Linked DNA regions of Homo sapiens: region 2 is linked to region 1. Evidence: fine-mapped expression QTL. Tissue or cell type: whole blood. Region 1 holds a variant in brackets; the other region holds the start of a gene. All regions are shown on one strand. Distances are from middle to middle.

What was found. PIP is the estimated chance that this variant, and not a neighbour inherited with it, causes the effect. A credible set is the group of variants that fine-mapping cannot tell apart.
Region 2: MTA2 starts here. The variant in region 1 is the best candidate, but not a certain one, in a credible set for the expression of MTA2 in whole blood (TOPMed, PIP 0.77).

Annotation. Positions count from the first base shown.
Region 1 is chr11:62,515,135-62,525,538 of GRCh38, forward strand. It overlaps AHNAK (AHNAK nucleoprotein), which reads right to left. Exons shown (of 5, transcript NM_001620.3): 5 at 768-10,404. The coding sequence ends at 1,610. Among named protein-coding and RNA genes, the nearest start is that of AHNAK, 26 kb to the right of the region's middle. The variant G/A (reference allele first, on the strand shown) is at 8,270.
Region 2 is chr11:62,599,576-62,607,365 of GRCh38, forward strand. It overlaps MTA2 (metastasis associated 1 family member 2), which reads right to left and starts at 2,290. Exons shown (of 18, transcript NM_004739.4): 1 at 1,848-2,290; 2 at 1,047-1,114; 3 at 591-684. The coding sequence starts at 1,875. EML3 (EMAP like 3) reads right to left here. Exons shown (of 22, transcript NM_153265.3): 12 at 7,383-7,524; 13 at 6,488-6,639; 14 at 6,280-6,405; 15 at 6,067-6,198; 16 at 5,538-5,605; 17 at 4,538-4,626; 18 at 4,369-4,466; 19 at 4,154-4,241; 20 at 3,574-3,672; 21 at 3,184-3,314; 22 at 2,643-3,103. The coding sequence ends at 2,900. RefSeq lists enhancers at 1,161-1,871, 1,306-1,355, 2,736-2,785, 3,294-4,003 and silencers at 1,606-1,685, 1,766-1,865, 1,936-1,985.

The sequences.
Region 1 (10,404 bases):
GAAATCAAAAGGGGACTTTGGTCAGAAGACTTTTCCATAATGTTTAGCCCTAAAATGGACTAGAAAGAACCACAGAGATAACTTACACAAGATCAGCACCCTGGCCGGGCGCAGTGGCTCATGCCTGTAATCCCAGTACTTTGGGAGGCCAAGGCGGGTGGATCACTGGAGGTCAGGAGTTTGAGACCAGCCTGGCCAACATGGTGAAACTTCGTCTCTACTAAATATAAAAATTAGCCAGGCGTAGAGGCAAGGGCCTGTAATCCCAGCTACTCGGGAGGCTGAGGCAGGAAAATCGCTTGAACCCAGGAGGAGGAGGTTGCAGTGAGCCAAGATTGTGCCACTGCACTCCAGCCTGGGCAACAGCGGTTACTCAGCAAACCTGCAGCCATGTCAGGAATAAATGGCAGAGCGGTGATTCACAAGCAGAGCCCTTTCGGTAATTCCAGGAGGCCTTTTAACTGTTCACATCTGTAACCCATTTAGAACCAATTCTGAATTGTATATTCATATGTGAGGATGCAAAGTAGGTGAGTGGGTCCCGAGGCCAAGCCTCTTCTTGATTTCTCAGCAATGGCACAACCAGCCTCACCATGAGAATCAAGAAGCAAAGATTTTCTCCCACTACCTCCCGAAGGTCACTGTCTTAAAGTCACTGATGAAACTAGCAATGCCACCAGATGGATCCGGTCTGAACACTCACAGCTGGCTGTGCAGCTTCCCCAGGTTTCACGCCCCCGCAACACAGAATGCAAAGGCACAAGACATCAAGGTTAATAAACAGCTTTATTTGCCTTGTACAGCATCAATTTTCTTACATTCTCAGTTAATTGGCCATTAAAGTGCTGGAAATTTTCTTAATCATGATAACATTTGTTAAAAAGAAATCAGAACTAATATCAGGAACATGGCGGCATGAAGGAAACAGTTCCCTTACAAAACACAGAAAATGGAAGCCCCTCATGTTGAGGGGGTGGGTTGGACAATTTGCAAACAGATTCTAATTTCCTCTCACCGTCAGCACCAAACTGGCTGGGACCACCACCCCTGGGTGAAAGAAACAACACTAAAGAACCCTAAAAACACCCACACACCCTGACTACCACCACCTCTGGGCCATCTGTGGGCGTTTGCTGTTTGAACAGATCCAGTCTCAGGAAAGAGGAAGACCTGACCTCCGTCTGCAACCCATCACCCCACCCACCCTTACTAACAAAAGCCCCCAAAGTCATTACAATGAAAAAGTGGGTTTCCATTACCCCAAAACTAACAATGTTCAGTAAAAATGAGGATAATAAACACAAAAGCTTGCTTAGTAAACAGGAGCTCTCAGCAGTCAATGCAAAAAAATATATATATATGAAATCTTAAGGCAAATACTGTTGACTTTGCACATGGGCTGGACGAACTTGGAACTCTTTACCTATCTGTATAGTTCCAGGAGCCTACAGGCGGTCGGTTTTTCAGCGCTTGCCACCGGGCCAGGCAAGGTCTTTGCATGATTGCTGAGGCAGTCGGTGTGTTTCCCTTTGGAGTTTATATAGGAACACACCACCCAAGGCTGATGTTTTGTTATATATATATATATGTACACACATACAAAGGCCTGCTACTCTTTCTTTGTGGAAACTGACAGCTCCACCTCGGGAAGCTGGATGCCAACCTTATTCCCACTGTCATTGCTAGAAGAGGAGGACAGTCGGGACTTCTTAGAGGCCAGGGACACCCCACTCCCCTGTAACTTGCCTGTCTCATCATCGCTCCCAGTCACCTCATAATGACCTTTGCTCTTTGACCCCAATCCACCAAAGGTACCGAATTTCAGCTTCCCGTGTTTCCCTTTAACTTTCCCACCTTCCAGAGACACTTCCCCACCTTCAAACTCCAGCGTCCCCGTCGGGGTGGAAGGTCCAGAGAACTCTCTTTCATCACTGAATGAATTTGAGCGGTGCCGTGGCTTCTTACTTTTAAATAAGGAGAATTTGCCTTTCGGTGAAGAGGCTTCGGCCTCTGCCTCTCCTTCCAGAGAGCCCAGGCTGGCCTTTGAACTTTTCAGGTCACCTTTGGACCCAGAAATTGATGCTTCTGGTGAGCCAGTGACACCACCTTTCCCTTTAGGTTTGGAAAAATTAAACTTGGGCATTTTGATCTTGGACTTTTTCAGTTTGACTTCAGACTCTTCCCACTCGCCGTCTCCAGCACCAGCTTGGATGCTGGCCTCTGCTTTAGGGAAGTGAACATCCACCCCCATTTCTCTGCCAACCAGCTCACGGCCAGAGAAGGTAAATTTGGGGATCTTCATTTTAGGGAATGTTACTTTTCCAGATCCACTTTCCAAGTGACCTTGAGGCCCAGACACACTCAGCCCAGGAGCCTGGAGTCCAATCTGACCTCCTTTCACACCTCCTTCCACCTTTGGTCCTGAGAAATGAAGGCCCCCAGCAAACTTAGATGTGTCCAAGTTGAGAGCAGAGGAGACTTGGGGTCCCTTCCACTCACCCCCGGAACCTTTAACACTCAAATGCCCTTCACCAAGGCTGATGTCTGGGGCACTGACACCCCCTGAAACATCCGCACCTCCTTTGATTTTTGGGCCCTTCAAGTTGATGCCAAAATCTGACTCAGGAGATGCCATATTAAAGGCAGGCCCCTTCACACTGATATCAGGAGCAGCCCCATGGAAACCTACTTCTGAACCTTTCAGACCACCTTTGATTTCAGGCCCAGAAATCTGCCCAGTTGGGAGTTTCACATTCACGCCTGGCAGGTTCACATCACATCCAGAGGACTTAATTCCAGGCATCTGGAGGTTTCCTTCTAGGCCTTGAACACCAATGCCTGGAAGACCTCCTCCGACAGTGGGGCCTTTGATCTCACCAGTGGCCCCAAGGCTCCCTTTCACTTTTGGTCCTTCCAAGTTAAAGTCCACATTCGGTGCTGAAATCCGAGGCCCTTTCAGGTTCACATCCACACCTGGCCCCTTCAGTTCGCCAGAAACCTGTGGCCCCTTGGCATTGACGTGCAAGTCGGACCCCGGAGTAGAGATGCCAAATTGGGGCAGCTTCATTTTGGGAAGTTTAATGCTGCCTTCGGATGCCTCCAAGCTTAGATCAGGAGCTCCTACGGATACTTTAGGGCATTTGATGTCACCAGAGACAGCCAGATCTCCCTGCAGGCTTGGTCCCCTCAGTGTCACATCTGGTGCCCCAACGTTAAGCTTTGTTGTGGCATCGATCCCTGGCACTTTCACACCGTCTCCTCCCACCTGCATTTTGCCACCGACACCACTGAGGTTGAGCCCTGGAGCATGCACCTTCATGCTGGGAACAGATGCATCCAGGTCTCCCTTCAAACTTGGTCCTTTCAAGTTCAGATCAAGGTCAGGCCCAGAGACTTTTGGCATAGAGAGGTTCACTGAAGGCAAGTCTACTCCTGGCCCCTTTAGAGAAACATCGGGCCCTTCGAGCTTAACATCTGGTCCTCTCAAGTCTCCTTCAAGAGAGGGTAGCTGGGCATGGACCTCGGCTCCCCCACCCTCCATTTTCACACCTGGGATGCCGATCTTGGGCATGGAAAACTTGGGGAACTTAATTTTTGCTTCTGGACCTTGCAGATCTACATCTGGTCCTTCCAGTCCCACGCTGGGGACATCACCCTTTATCTTTGGTCCTTTCAAGTTTACATTCACATCAGGGATGGAGACTTGAGGGGCAGAAATGCCGAAGGACGGTGTTTTGACTTTAGCATCTAGGCCTTCGATGTTGATGTCAGGTGCACCCAAGTTTGCCTGCACTTTGGGGCCTTTCAGGTCACCCTCTATTTTTGGCACTGAGATGTCCACATCTGGCATCTTGACCTTGGGAGCCTTCGCCTTGATGTCAAGACCTTCGACGTGAATCGCTGGCAAAGAAAGTTCCAGATCAGGTGCCTGGAGTTCACCCTCCAGTTTGGGGCTAGGGAGAGGGGCCTCAGCTTTAAATTTAGGTGATTTAATGTCAAACTCTACATCTGGGAAGTACATTTTTCCAAACATCGTTTTCTTGGTTTTGGGCGATTTCACGTCGACTTTGAGTGCAGCATCCGGCCCTGCGATGTTGACATCTACATCCGGAGCCTTGAGGCTGGCATCAATTTCACCCCCAGGAACATTCAGGTCAAATCCCTGTTTTTTGGCCTTAATCTTAGGACCACTCATATGAATTTTAGGCATTTTAAACTTACTTTTCTTGCCCTTGCCACCAACACTAATTTCAGGAGTCTCAAGGTTCAGCTCTGCCTCAGGAACAGTGACATCCAGTGAAGGTGACTTGATGTCAGCTTTGGGGCTTTTTGCCCCAAATCCAAACTTGGGTTTCTTAAATTTGGGGATTTTAACATCTGGCCCTTCGATGTTAATATCTGGGCTGTCCATGTGTACATCTAAGCTTGGAGCTTCAACTTTGGGTCCCTTGAGGTCCACTTCACCACCTTCTAACTTCGGACCTGAAAATCCAATTTTTGGTGCCTTGAGATGCAAATCAACATCAGGAGCAGTTACTTTAGGAGCAGATATCTCCAGCGATGGCATCTTCAAAGATGGGCCACTGAGTTTGGCATCAGGGCCTTCGAAATCCAGACGTGGACCTTTAAGATCTACTTCTGGGCCTTTCAAAGTCCCTTCAACCTTAGGGACAGACACATCAAAATCTCCTTTTACTTTGGGTCCTTTCAAATCCAGGTCAACATCAGGTATGGAGATCTTGGGAGCTTTGATATTTATTTCAGGCATCTTGAACTTGGGGCCCTTCAGTTTTGCGTCTGGACCTTCGATATTCACATCTGGAATATCAACGTCCACCTTGGGTCCCGAGACATCGATGTCGGCCTTGGGCAGGCTCACATCCACATCTGGACCTTCTCCTTTGAAGCCAGGCATGCTGAATTTGGGCATTTTCACCTTGGGCATCTTCAGGTGCCAGTCTGGGCCATGAACATCCACATCAGGGGTGTTGATGTCCACTTTTGGGCCCTTGATGTCAGCTTCTGGGCCCTTGAGGTCACCTTCCACTTTAGGAAGGGTAACATCCACATCGCCCTTCACTTTGGGTCCTTTCAGGTTTAAGTCAATATCAGGCATGGAGATCTTGGGGGCTTTGATGCTCATCTCAGGCATCTTGAACTTGGGGCCCTTTAGTTTCGCATCTGGACCTTCGATATTCACATCAGGAACATCAACGTCCACTTTGGGTCCTGAGACATCAATGTCAGCCTTGGGCAGGTTCACATCCACATCTGGGCCCTCTCCTTTGAAGCCAGGCATGCTGAACTTGGGCATTTTCACTTTGGGCATTTTTAGGTGCCAGTCTGGGCCTTGAACGTCCACATCTGGGACATCAATGTCCACTTTGGGGTCCCTGATGTCAACTTCGGGGCCCTTGAGGTCGCCTTCCACTTTGGGCAGAGAAATGTCCATGTCGCCCTTCACCTTTGGACCTTTCAGATTCAGGTCAACTTCAGGCATAGAGATCTTCGGTGCCTTGAGGTGTAAGTCAGGCATTTTAAATTTGGGGCCCTTCAGTTTCCCTTCTGGACCATGAATGTCAATATCAGGAGTGTCAATGCCCACTTTAGGGCCTTTGACATCCACTTTGGGACCTTTCAGATCTCCCTCCAGTTTAGGAACGGAAATGTCCATATCTCCTTTTATCTTAGGTCCTTTCAAATTCAAATCAATGTCACTCATGGAGATTTGTGGGCTTTTGAAATGTACATCAGGCATCTTAAACTTGGGACCTTTGAGCTTCCCTTCAGGACCTTCAATGTCTACCTCTGGCCCTTTCAGATCACTTTCCACCTTAGGTAGTGAAACATCCACATCACCCTTCACCTTGGGACCTTTCAGGTGCAAATCAAAGTCAGGCATAGAGATTTTGGGAGCTTTGATGTTCATCTCAGGCATCTTAAATTTGGGCCCCTTCAATTTTCCTTCCGGACCTTCAATATTGACATCAGGTGTGTCAATGTCCAAACTGGGGCCTTTTATGTCAATTTCAGGGCCCTTGAGATCACCTTCCACTTTGGGCAGAGAGACATCCACATCACCTTTCACTTTGGGACCCTTCAAGTTAAAGTCAATGTCAGGCATGGAGATTTTGGGGGCCTTGATGTTCATCTCTGGCATCTTGAACTTTGGACCCTTGAGTTTTGCATCTGGACCTTCGATACTGACATCAGGGGCATCAATGTCCACTTTGGGGCCAGAAATCTCAATGTCAGCCTTAGGAAGGGTAACATCCACATCTGGGCCCTCTCCTTTGAATCCTGGCATGCTGAATTTGGGCATTTTCACCTTGGGCATCTTCAGGTGCCAGTCTGGGCCATGAACATCTACATCAGGGGCATCGATGTCCACTTTGGGGCCCTTGATGTCAACTTCTGGGCCCTTGAGGTCACCTTCCACTTTAGGAAGGGAAACATCCACATCACCCTTCACCTTGGGACCTTTCAGATGCAAATCAAAGTCAGGCATGGAGATCTTGGGGGCTTTGATGTTCATCTCAGGCATCTTGAATTTAGGGCCCTTTAGTTTCGCATCTGGACCTTCGATATTCACATCAGGAACATCAATGTCCACCTTGGGTCCTGAGACGTCAAGGTCAGCCTTGGGCAGGTTCACATCCACATCTGGGCCCTCTCCTTTGAAGCCAGGCATGCTGAACTTGGGCATTTTCACTTTGGGCATTTTTAAGTGCCAGTCTGGGCCTTGAACGTCCACATCTGGGACATCAATGTCCACTTTGGGGCCCTTGATGTCAACTTCAGGGCCCTTGAGGTCGCCTTCCACTTTGGGCAGAGAAACGTCCACGTCGCCCTTCATCTTTGGACCTTTCAGATTCAGGTCAACTTCAGGCATAGAGATCTTCGGTGCCTTGAGGTGCAGGTCAGGCATTTTAAATTTGGGGCCCTTCAGTTTCCCTTCTGGACCATGAATATCAATATCAGGAGTGTCAATGTCCACTTTGGGTCCTGAGACATCAATGTCAGCTTTGGGCAAATTAACATCCACTTCTGGGCCCTCTCCTTTAAATCCTGGCATGCTGAATTTGGGCATTTTCACCTTGGGCATCTTCAGGTGCCAGTCTGGGCCATGAACATCCACATCTGGGGCATCAATGTCCACTTTGGGGCCCTTGATGTCAACTTCAGGGGCCTTTAGATCACCTTCCATCTTAGGCAGAGAAACATCCACATCTCCTTTCACCTTAGGGCCTTTCAGATGCAAATCAAAGTCAGGCATGGAGATCTTGGGGGCTTTGATGTTCATCTCTGGCATCTTGAATTTAGGGCCCTTCAGTTTCGCATCTGGACCTTCAATATTCACATCTGGAACATCAACGTCCACCTTGGGTCCTGAGACGTCAAGGTCAGCCTTGGGCAGGTTCACATCCACTTCTGGACCTTCTCCTTTGAAGCCAGGCATGCTGATCTTGGGCATTTTTATCTTAGGCATCTTCAGGTGCCAGTCTGGGCCTCGAACATCCACATCTGGGGCATTAATATCCACTTTGGGGCCTTTAATATCCAAGTCAGGAACTTGCATGTCACCTTCCACTTTTGGCAGAGACACATCCATATCACCCTTCACTTTGGGTCCTTTCAGGTTAAGATCAATGTCAGGCATGGAGATCTTGGGGGCTTTGATGTTCATCTCAGGCATCTTGAATTTGGGACCTTTCAACTTTCCCTCTGGGCCTTCGATATTCACATCTGGAACATCAATGTCCACCTTGGGTCCTGAGACATCAAGGTCAGCCTTGGGCAGGTTCACATCCACATCTGGGCCCTCTCCTTTGAAGCCAGGCATGCTGAACTTGGGCATTTTCACCTTGGGCATCTTCAGGTGCCAGTCTGGGCCTTGAACATCAACATCTGGAGCATTAATGTCCACTTTGGGGCCCTTGATGTCAACTTCAGGACCCTTGAGGTCACCTTCCATTTTGGGCAGAGAAACATCCACATCGCCCTTGACTTTGGGGCCCTTCAGGTTTAAATCAATGTCAGGCATCGATATTTTGGGAGCCTTCAGGTGCATCTCTGGTATCTTAAATTTGGGTCCCTTGAATTTACCCTCTGAGCCTTCGATGTTAATGTCAGGAGTGTCAATGTCCACTTTGGGGCCCTTGATGTCCACCTCAGGGCCTTTTAGATCACCTTCCACTTTGGGCAAAGACACAACCACATCACCCTTCATTTTGGGTCCCTTCAAGTTCAGGTCAAAGTCAGGCATGGA[G/A]ATCTTGGGGGCTTTGATGTTCATCTCAGGCATCTTGAACTTGGGGCCCTTCAGCTTTGCATCTGGACCTTCAATATTCACGTCTGGAACATCAACGTCTACATTGGGACCAGAAATGTCAATGTCAGCTTTAGGGAGGGTAACATCGACTTCAGGGCCTTCTCCTTTGAAGCCAGGCATGCTGAACTTGGGCATTTTCACTTTGGGCATCTTCAGATGCCAGTCTGGACCATGAACATCCACATCTGGGGCATTGATGTCCACTTTAGGGCCTTTGATATCAACCTCTGGCCCTTTCAGATCCCCTTCAAGTTTGGGAAGAGAAATATCCACATCACCTTTCACCTTGGGGCCTTTCAAGTTTAAGTCAATGTCAGGCATGGAGATCTTGGGAGCTTTGATATTCATGTCAGGCATCTTGAATTTGGGACCTTTCAAGCCTCCCTCCGGACCTTCCACATTGAGATCTGGGCCCTCAATGTTCATACTTGGGCCCTCTATGTTGATGTCTCCTTTTGGTAGATCCACAGCTACATCTGGCCCTTCTGCTTTTAAGCCAGACACACTGAATTTGGGCATTTTCATCTTGGGCATTTTCAGATTCCAGTCTGGACCATGAACATCCACATCAGGTGCATTAAGATTGACTTCTGGTGCCTTAATATCCACTTTGGGGCCTTTAAAGTCACCTTCTAAATTGGGACCTGCAATATCTAAGTCTCCTTTGACTTTGGGACTTTTCAAATTTAGCTCCACGTCAGGCATAGAAACTTTGGGAGATGAAATACTCAGGAAAGGCATTTTAAACTTGGATCCTTTCACTTTTCCTTGGACCTCGACATCAGGAGCATTAATATCAACTTTTGGACCTGTTATGTCAATATCTGGCTTTTTACCTTTGACATCCACTTCAGGTGTCTGAACTTTAGAGCCCGAAAAATTAAATTTGGGAAGCTTAAAACGAGATTTCTTTGACTTGCCTTCGATATTAAGCTTAGGACCGGAAACGTCCACTTCTGGGCCCTTTATATCCAAACTGGGAGCTTTAATGTCACCTTCCAACTTGGGCCCAGAGACATCAACATCTCCCTTAAGCTTTGAGCCTTTCAAATTCAAGTCAATTTCTGGCATGGAGATCTTGGGCATGTTTACATGCATGTCAGGCATCTTCAGTTTTGGACCTTTTAATTTGGCATCTGGGCCATGAATGTCAATATCTGGAGCATCTACATCTATCTTTGGGCCTTTTATGTCAAGAGCAGGTCCTTTCAAATCACCTTCTACATTTGCAAGTGAAACATCCACCTCTCCTTTCATTTTAGGGCCTTTAAGATTGAGGTCCAAATCAGGCATTGATATTTTAGGAGCTTTGATGTTCATCTCTGGCATCTTGAATTTAGGGCCCTTCAGTTTCGCATCTGGACCTTCAATATTCACATCTGGAACATCAACGTCCACCTTGGGTCCTGAGACGTCAAGGTCAGCCTTGGGCAGGTTCACGTCCACTTCTGGACCTTCTCCTTTGAAGCCAGGCATGCTGATCTTGGGCATTTTTATTTTAGGCATCTTCAGGTGCCAGTCTGGGCCTTGAACATCCACATCTGGGGCATTAATATCCACTTTGGGGCCTTTAATATCCACGTCAGGAACTTTCATGTCACCTTCCACTTTTGGCAGAGACACATCCATGTCACCCTTCACTTTGGGACCTTTCAGGTTAAGATCAATGTCAGGCATGGAGATCTTGGGGGCTTTGATGTTCATCTCAGGCATTTTGAATTTGGGACCTTTCAACTTTCCCTCTGGGCCTTCGATATTCACATCTGGAACATCAATGTCCACCTTGGGTCCTGAGACATCAAGGTCAGCCTTGGGCAGGTTCACATCCACATCTGGGCCCTCTCCTTTGAAGCCAGGCATGCTGAATTTGGGCATTTTCACTTTGGGCATTTTTAGGTGCCAGTCTGGGCCTTGAACGCCCACATCCGGGACATCAATGTCCACTTGGGGACCCCTGATGTCAACTTCAGGGCCCTTGAGGTCACCTTCCACTTTGGGCAGAGAAATATCCACATCGCCCTTCACCTTGGGACCTTTCAGATGCAAATCAAAGTCAGGCATGGGGATCTTGGGGG
Region 2 (7,790 bases), 83 kb after region 1:
AAAGAAGCTAAGGAAAATATGTTTTTTAAAAAAAGAAGATGAGACCTTAAAGAGAATGAAGATAGGGCAAAATGAAAAGGGAAAGATGTAAAATGGAGGGGGGCGGGCGGGGAAATGGGCGAGGTGAGAAATTAAAAAGCGCAAGAAAACTTCCAGCCATCTTCTAACTTCCAGGTACTCTCATCACCTTGTGATTACAAAATAAGCCTGCTTCTCTGTTACGCAGGCTTCTCAGTACAATGTCTTCCTCTTCACGTTGACCTTCAGTCATCACCTACTGTCTCAATGTACCCCAAACTGCCCCCCTTTAGAAAACCATTGTTTCTCTAAAGCTCGTCCTCATACTCTAAATGTTATCATCTCTCTCTTACTCTCATATACAAACCATATTATCGCTTTCCTTATCACAATCTCTCCACCCTGCTTCCAACCCCAACATGTAAAAACAGGCCTCCCTCCTCAGGCCAGGCATTTCCCACCCCCAAACTCACACCTCTGCCTTGGGCATGCTACCAGGGGAAATACCTGCAGGGACATGCCCAGGCCTCAGATCATGGGTAGGAGAAAAAGAAAGGGAGGAAGATACTCACTGGCATTACTATCAGCCAGGCTGTTGAGGCTACTAGAAATGTCCCTGCGCCGGAAAAGACAGACAACCTTTGCCTCCACATTTCCATTTGCAGTCTAAGGGGAGGAAAAAAACAAAAACAAAACAACGTAGCAGTGGAAATTGATCATCTGGGAACAGAAATGCACAAAGAGACAAATAACAGTAAGTTTCAGAGGGACCTAAATTAAAAAGCCCAAGAAAATATGAGTAAAGACTTACATTCAAGGATAGACTTCCAAATCCCTTTCCTTTGCCCCCAAGAGACAGAATAGTAAAGTTCCTGCTAACCTCTCAATAGCCTTTCCTGAATACATCCAATGAATGAATGAACGAATATGAATGGGTACTTAGTATAGGATCCTCTCTTCCACCAGAAGTTAGAAACCTCAGAAGAGACCACTGCGGGAGGGAGGGAGAGGGATTCTGCTCCACTCACCTTGTTGAGCTCCTCAATCCGTCTAACCAGGTAAGGATTGCTGGAAGAGTTCTCAAAATAGACGTAATCTGTAAGGGAAGGGAGGGGGGAGAACCACGAAGATCAGAGGAGATGGGAGACGCAGAGCACCAGGGTAGGAGAGAAAGTTGGCCTGAGTGGATCAAAAGGAGATAAGGATTCAGGTAGAAAGGGCGCTGAGATGTGAAAGTGGACAGACTAAGAGAAAATAAGGATGTCCCCCATCCCCACCGCACCTAGTTCTAAAATTAGATCCTTTACTCAAAAGAGAGCCTTAAGGAACAGGCAAGAAGCAGGGGTTCCCCTGCAGTCCCCACAACTCAGCGATGAGTTGCACCCCAGTCGCGGCGAAGTAATTGTCCGCTCTAGCGCAGGGCCCCTACCTTTTCGAATCGAGGCGCACAATAACGCCTGGGAAGAGGAAACCTCCGGGCGGCTCCCCCGCGGTGGCAAAGCCGTCGCCCCAGCCCCTCGCGTTCCCTCCCTACCCTGTCAGCTCCTTCGGAACCGGTTCCGAAGGCCACTCCGTGCCCCGGGGAGCCCCTGACGCAGCCCCGAAAGTGCCGTCGGGGCTGCCCGCAGCTTCTCTCTGGGAGTCTCGGAGCCCTGCCGCGTCGCGGTTCCCCGCACCCTCTCTCCTCGTCTCCCGGTTCCGGTTCCGGTCCGCGCTCCGGTCCACGCTGCCCCATACGCTGCGCCTCGCGCCACCCGGTGCCGAGCCCCTCAGGTCCCTACCCCAACCTCTCCCGCCCCGGGCCCCGTATCCCTGCGCCCGGTACTCACCTCCCACCCGGTACATGTTGGCCGCCATGGCCGTTCCCGCCGCCGCCTCCGGCCGCACAAAGGGGTCCGGGAGGCTCGCGGGGGCAGGGCTCGGCTCGAGGCAAAGCCCCGAACGGTGGGCTGCCGCTTCGAGGGAGTCTCACTGGGGCCCGCGCAGCCGGCACCTCCGCTGCCTCAGCCGTCGCGGTTCATCCCGGCCCGCGCTGTCGCCGCCGCAGCTATCGCCTCACTCCCGGGACGCTGAGGCTGGCCCCCGTCCGCTCGGCTTCTTCCGGAACGAGCTCGGCTCCTGCCAGGCCAGAGCCAGGCTCCAGCTACCCCCGCCCCCGCGGAGTCCCACTAGTCGTTGGGCTCTGCCGGCCGCAGGGAAGGCTTGCCGGGCCCGCCTCAGGGTTCGCCTCCTTCCGGAACACCTTCGGCCGATCCGGAGAACAAGGCCCACTGCTCGGCTCAGGTCGGAGAGCGAGACCCCGCAGATCGGCTACTTCCGGAAGAAGTTCGGCTCCTGTCGGGCAACCGCTCGGCTATTTCCGTCGCAGCTCGGCCCCACCCCCTTTTCCGAGGGCGGGAGAGGAGTCGGGCTTAACTCTGTCCTCGCTGGAGCCCTGCAGCTCCTCCTCGCGCCCCAAAGACTCGCGCGCCTTAGCGCTTCGCCAGGTTATTTGCAAGCGGCTTTGCCTGTCATTTGCATAAATGGTCTACGCTCCCTTACCCTTTCCGCACGCCTCTTTTCCTTCGTCCCCACCCCACAGAGCCCCGGAGGCGCCCGGCAGCGCCCCACAAAAGCACCGGGAGGCGACTTTGGTTCTGGTTTATTGCCCCTCAGCAGGCAGCGGGAGTCAAGGCCTAGGCTGGGGCTGCCCGGCTCAGCCAGCGGGTCTAAACAGTGTGTGCAGGGGCGCCGTTCGCGCCCTCCAGGAAAATGCGCGATCGGGAATGTCTCGAAGTCAGTCCAGGAAAGAGTCGGCCCCTAGTCGTGGGGGATTGGGCCAGGGAAGGGCAGGGCGGGGCGGGGCCACGCCGCCGGGCCAGTCGGTCCCGCCAGGCAGCGATCAAACGTCGAGGGAGGAGGCGGGGGACAGGGAGGGGGTTCGAGAGGGCGTGGCGGGCGCCGGCCCCGCGCCCCCAGCGCCCAGCACTCGCCACTGGAAGATGCTGGCGTCCTTGCCGCCCAGCGAGACGAGGTGCGAGTCGTCGTGCGTGAATCGGACGCTGGTCACGTGGCTGCCGTGGCCCCCGTACATGCGGCTCGGCGCCTGGGCCGGAGGGAAGAGTTGCGGTGGCGGCTGAGCCCTCGGGCCCACCGGTCCCACCCCGGCGATCCCCGCGGCCTCACCTTGGCACGAGCGCACGGGTACTGGAAGAGATGCACTTTGCAGAAGTCGTCGGCCACCGCCACCACGCGCTCGTTGTGGGAGCGGCACAGGGAGTTGATGTCGGTCCCATCGGAGCCGTCCGGCCAGACGCCTAGCACAGCGGCCGGCCTCAGCCCGACCTCCTACCCACCGCCACCCACGGCCCAGAGCTACACCATTTCAGGCGCTCCGGCAGCCGCGGCCACCCACTGCCGCGTTCCAGGCAAGCCTTCCCGGTCCCGAGGGGCCTCCTGGGCTGGATCTTCAGGTTTCTGGACTCTCACCCAACGACACACGCCCAGCGTTCCAAGCCCAAACTGGGCTCCACCTTGTCCCCCACCCTTCCAGCAGGTTTCCACGCCCCTGCTCACCGTAGACGTGAAAGCCCAGCACACAGGTGTAGGTAGCCCATTCCCGGTCTCGGCTCTCATAGCGATTCTTCAGCTGCTTGCAGCCTCCAGCCACGTCCCCTGGGGAGAGGGAGCCCGCCCAGCTCAGCTCTCACCCTGCCCTCAGTAGGGAAGATGCCAGGGAAAGCCAGACTGGAAAGACTGGCATGAAACCCGGCGATGGCATGTGATCTGGTCACCGTAGTAGCATCACCTCCTCCCCCTGTGAAACCCACCCTGTGTGCGTCCTGTCCTGAGCTCTGGCTGAAGTTCTAACAGCTTCCACGAGTTCCTCCTCCCTAGATAAGTCAAGTGCTCCACACTTGCCCTGAGAAACTTTTCCCAAACAATCTTTTCTTAGCGCATTTTTGAACTCCCTCAAGTCAACAAGACATGGTGTGAAACTAGTTGTTTCCAAATCACGAAATTTCTCCTACATATAATTCCAACTCCACTTTAACCCCATCTCCACTTCCTTATCTAACAACACCTCTAACAGCCCCCCCTACACAAAACCCACTCCAATTACCCTCTCCCCATGTCCTGCTCCACTGCCACTCACAGTAAAGAATCTCATAGTCCCCAGAATTGGACATGATGAAATTCCCATCCTTGGACCAGTCAAGATGAGTGATGAAGCTGGAGTGACCCTGGGAGCAAAGGTCAAGAGTTTTAAAGTATCCCATCCATTTCCCATCCCCAGAGCCCCCTTGATGCATCAGACCCCTGAGTTTCGCAGCTGTTATCATGCCCCACCACACACCCCAACTTCCTCACCATACAGCGGCCAAAGCGGCTGGATTTGGCACCATCACTGGAAACACTATAGATGTAGATCACGTTGTCATGGGAACCAATGGCCAGGTACAACCCATCTGCAAATACAGTCACTCAGAGAGGGAAGGGCCAGGGACGCATGTGAGTCCAGGGTTGGGGTGGCTCCCACCTGGGCTGTACCGGACCACTGAGAGCTGCTCATTGCCATCAATGACATCAGACACGATCTCTCTGGTCTCTGTGTCCAAAACCAACCACCTGGAAGGGAGGGAAGTGGAGGCAGATAGGAAGACGAAAAGGCAGGATGTAAGGAGACCCCCAGGGAGGCCACCCTGGGTAGGCTTGGGGATGGCAAATAAGAGAAGCTCAGAGACACACACAGAAAGGCTCTGATGTAGAAGACAGGTCACAACTGCATTCTTCTTTTTTAGTTTGTTGTTGTTGTTGTTGTTGTTTTGAGACAGAGTCTCACTCTGTCACCCAGGCTGGAGTGCAGTGGCAAGATCTCAACGCAACCTCCACCTCCTGGGTTCAAGTGATTCTCATGCCTCAGCCTCCTGAGTAGCTAGAATTACAGGTGCGTACCACCATGCCCGTCTAATTTTTGTATTTTTAGTGGAGACGAGGTTTCACCATGTTGGCCAGGCTGGTCTTGAACTCCTGACCTCAAGTGATCCACCCGCCTCAGCTCCCAAAGCGCTAGGATTACAGGCGTGAGCCACCGCACCTGGCCACCACTGCATTCTTATGCTGAGAAATGGGAAGGAGCTAAGTGTGGATAAAGGCTGAGGGGCTTCTGATGTCGTCTGAAAAAGTAATCTGAAACTACAGACCAGGGGCCGACTACAAAGGCACTGTGCAAGCTGGAAGCCTGTCACTTCCCTGTGTTTGTCTATGCCCCTCCCATTCCCACTGTTTCTCTATCCTGGGCTGCTGCCTCCTCCACTCCCAGGCTTGGAGGAGACACTGGGTTGGGGGAGGGGGAGAAACAGTTACCACAGAAGAGGAGGGGAGCCCGGGTGGCAGGGGCTGCAGGGAGAGGCACAGAGGAGTGCCAAGGCGCAGGTGGCTCCTGGGTAGAGGTGGTCACTCTCGCCCACTCCCCCAGTACCAGGAACCCTTCCCAGTCCTCCCTGCTTTCCCTCCTGGGAGTCCTGGCTCTCTCTCACCTCCCCGTGTTCAGTCCTACGGCCACAACTGCCCCACTCGGGTGGAAGTCAGCACAGAGACCAGTCTCCTGGGAGAGGGGAGAAGGTGAATTCAAGATGATGTCTTTCTAGTGAGGGAACCAGAGTGAACCCCTTGTCCTCCTAACTTCAAAGCCACTTACTCCCAAGGAGAAGATGGGAAGAGAGGGAAGGGATACCCGGGTATCACTGGAGCCTGAACAGGGAGTGATACCAAAATATTTAACCACAGAACTGATGCCAATAGCTGTGCTGGAGATTAACCATTTAGGTGCTGGATCAAGAGGAAGTCTGAGGGGTTCTGGGGGCGGCAGGGAGTGCCCAGGTGGTACTAGAAGCATCAGCTTTTACCAGTCAGTACAGAAAAATTAATATTTGAGTAGCCAGTGCAGCCATACCAGTACAAACTGGCCACCTCTGGGAGGCAGAAGGCAAGGTGCTGGGGAAGGCGTGGTGGCCACAGGTGTCCTGGTGGGTGTGGCATGGGGGATCCAGGGGCACAGGGCTCTACCTTGAGGTCGATGCTCCAGGCCAGTGCATGGCTCTCCCCATCCCACAGGCAGAGCTGCCGGTCGTGGCCGCAGGTGAGGAAGCGGTTCTGGGAGGGGTGTGTGCAGAGCCCCCAGAGCTCATCAGTGTGGCCCTGCAGCACAGCATGACTGTCACTCCTGCCCCTCTCTCACACCCCTTTGTCCCTTCCTCCCCTGAGCCCTTAACCCCCAACCTGGATTACAGGGGAGAAGCCCTGGGCCAGGTCTCCCCTCAGCAATGCATTCTTCGTGGTTCCCACCAGCAGCTCAGAGCCAAGCCCTTCAGCAATGGCTCGCACGGCCCCGAAGTGCTCGGGAATCTGCAGAGTGGTAGCAGAATGTCAAGAGCCCACTGACTATTGCTCTTCTCCCTCACTCCCTTGACCCCAGCCCAGCCCTCACCTCAGCCTCCTGGAGGGCCACCAACCCGGGCCCCCACTGTACCAGCCGGCGGTCCCGCCCGCCACCACTCAGCACTGTCCCGTCCCTCCGGAGACACAAGGCGAAGATAGAACCTTCATGAGCGTGAGCCTGGGCCACAATCCCATAGGTCTCTGTTGGCAAAGCCCCAGGTAGATCATGTTTTGGGGGTGCAGGGGAGTGAGAAACAGGGCCAGCTTGGCTGTCGCAATACAGTAAGAACTCCCAGCCATTGCATGCACTGACTACTATGTCTCATCCTCATACTGCCAACACATCTGTTATTCTCCCCATTTTACAAACAGGACAACTGAGACTCACAGAAATGAGGTAACTTCCTAAAGGCAAGGCAACTAATAGCAAAACTGGAATCTGAACCTGAGATCTGGCAAACACAAAGCTCCAGCCGTTTCTCCTTTGCTGTGCTGCCCACACGCTTCTAGACTAGCCCCCAAGAGAACTATCAACTCTCAAGGTAAAAAGGTGGGAAACCTGGCTGGGCGCCGTGGCTCACGCCTGTAATCCCAGCACTTTGGGAGGCCAAGGCGGGCGGATCACCTGAGGTCAGGAATTCGAGACCAGCCTGGCCAACATGGCAAAACCCCATCTCTACTAAAAATACAAAAATTAGCTGGGCGTGGTGGCGTGTGCCTGTACTTCCAGCTACTTGGGAGACTGAGGAAGGAGGATCACTTGAACCTGGAAGGCAGAGGTTGCAGTGAACCAAGATCGCGCCACTGCAATCCAGCCTGGGCAACAGAGTAAGACCTCATCTCAAAAAAAAAAAAAAAAAAGATGGGAATGGGAAACCCTCTCCTCTGTTCCCACAGAACCTCTGGAGTACTACACTTCCCAGATGCCCCTCCCAGCCACATACCTTTGGCGCCACCCCTGCCTGGGGTCTTGGAATCTGAAGGGCTCCGCCCCCAGGTGAGAATGTTCCCCTCTGAGTCTCCAGTGAGAATGTCTCCATCCGGAAGGAACACAAAGCAAGGGATAAACTTGGGTTTCTTGTATTTCTAGTGGGAGGGGAGAGCAGACAGTAGAGGTCAAAGGGAAGGGCAAAGATTAAAAGTCGCAGGGCAGGCCAGGTGCAGTGGCTCATGCCTGTAATCCCAGCACTTTGGGAGGCCAAGGCGGGCGGGTCACCTGAGGCCAGGAGTTTGTGACCAGCCTGGCCAATATGGTGAAATCCCGCACTGCACTCCAGCCTGGGTGATAGAGCAAGGCACTGTCTCAAAAACAAAAAAAACAAAAAAAAAACGGGCATGATGGCCAACATGAT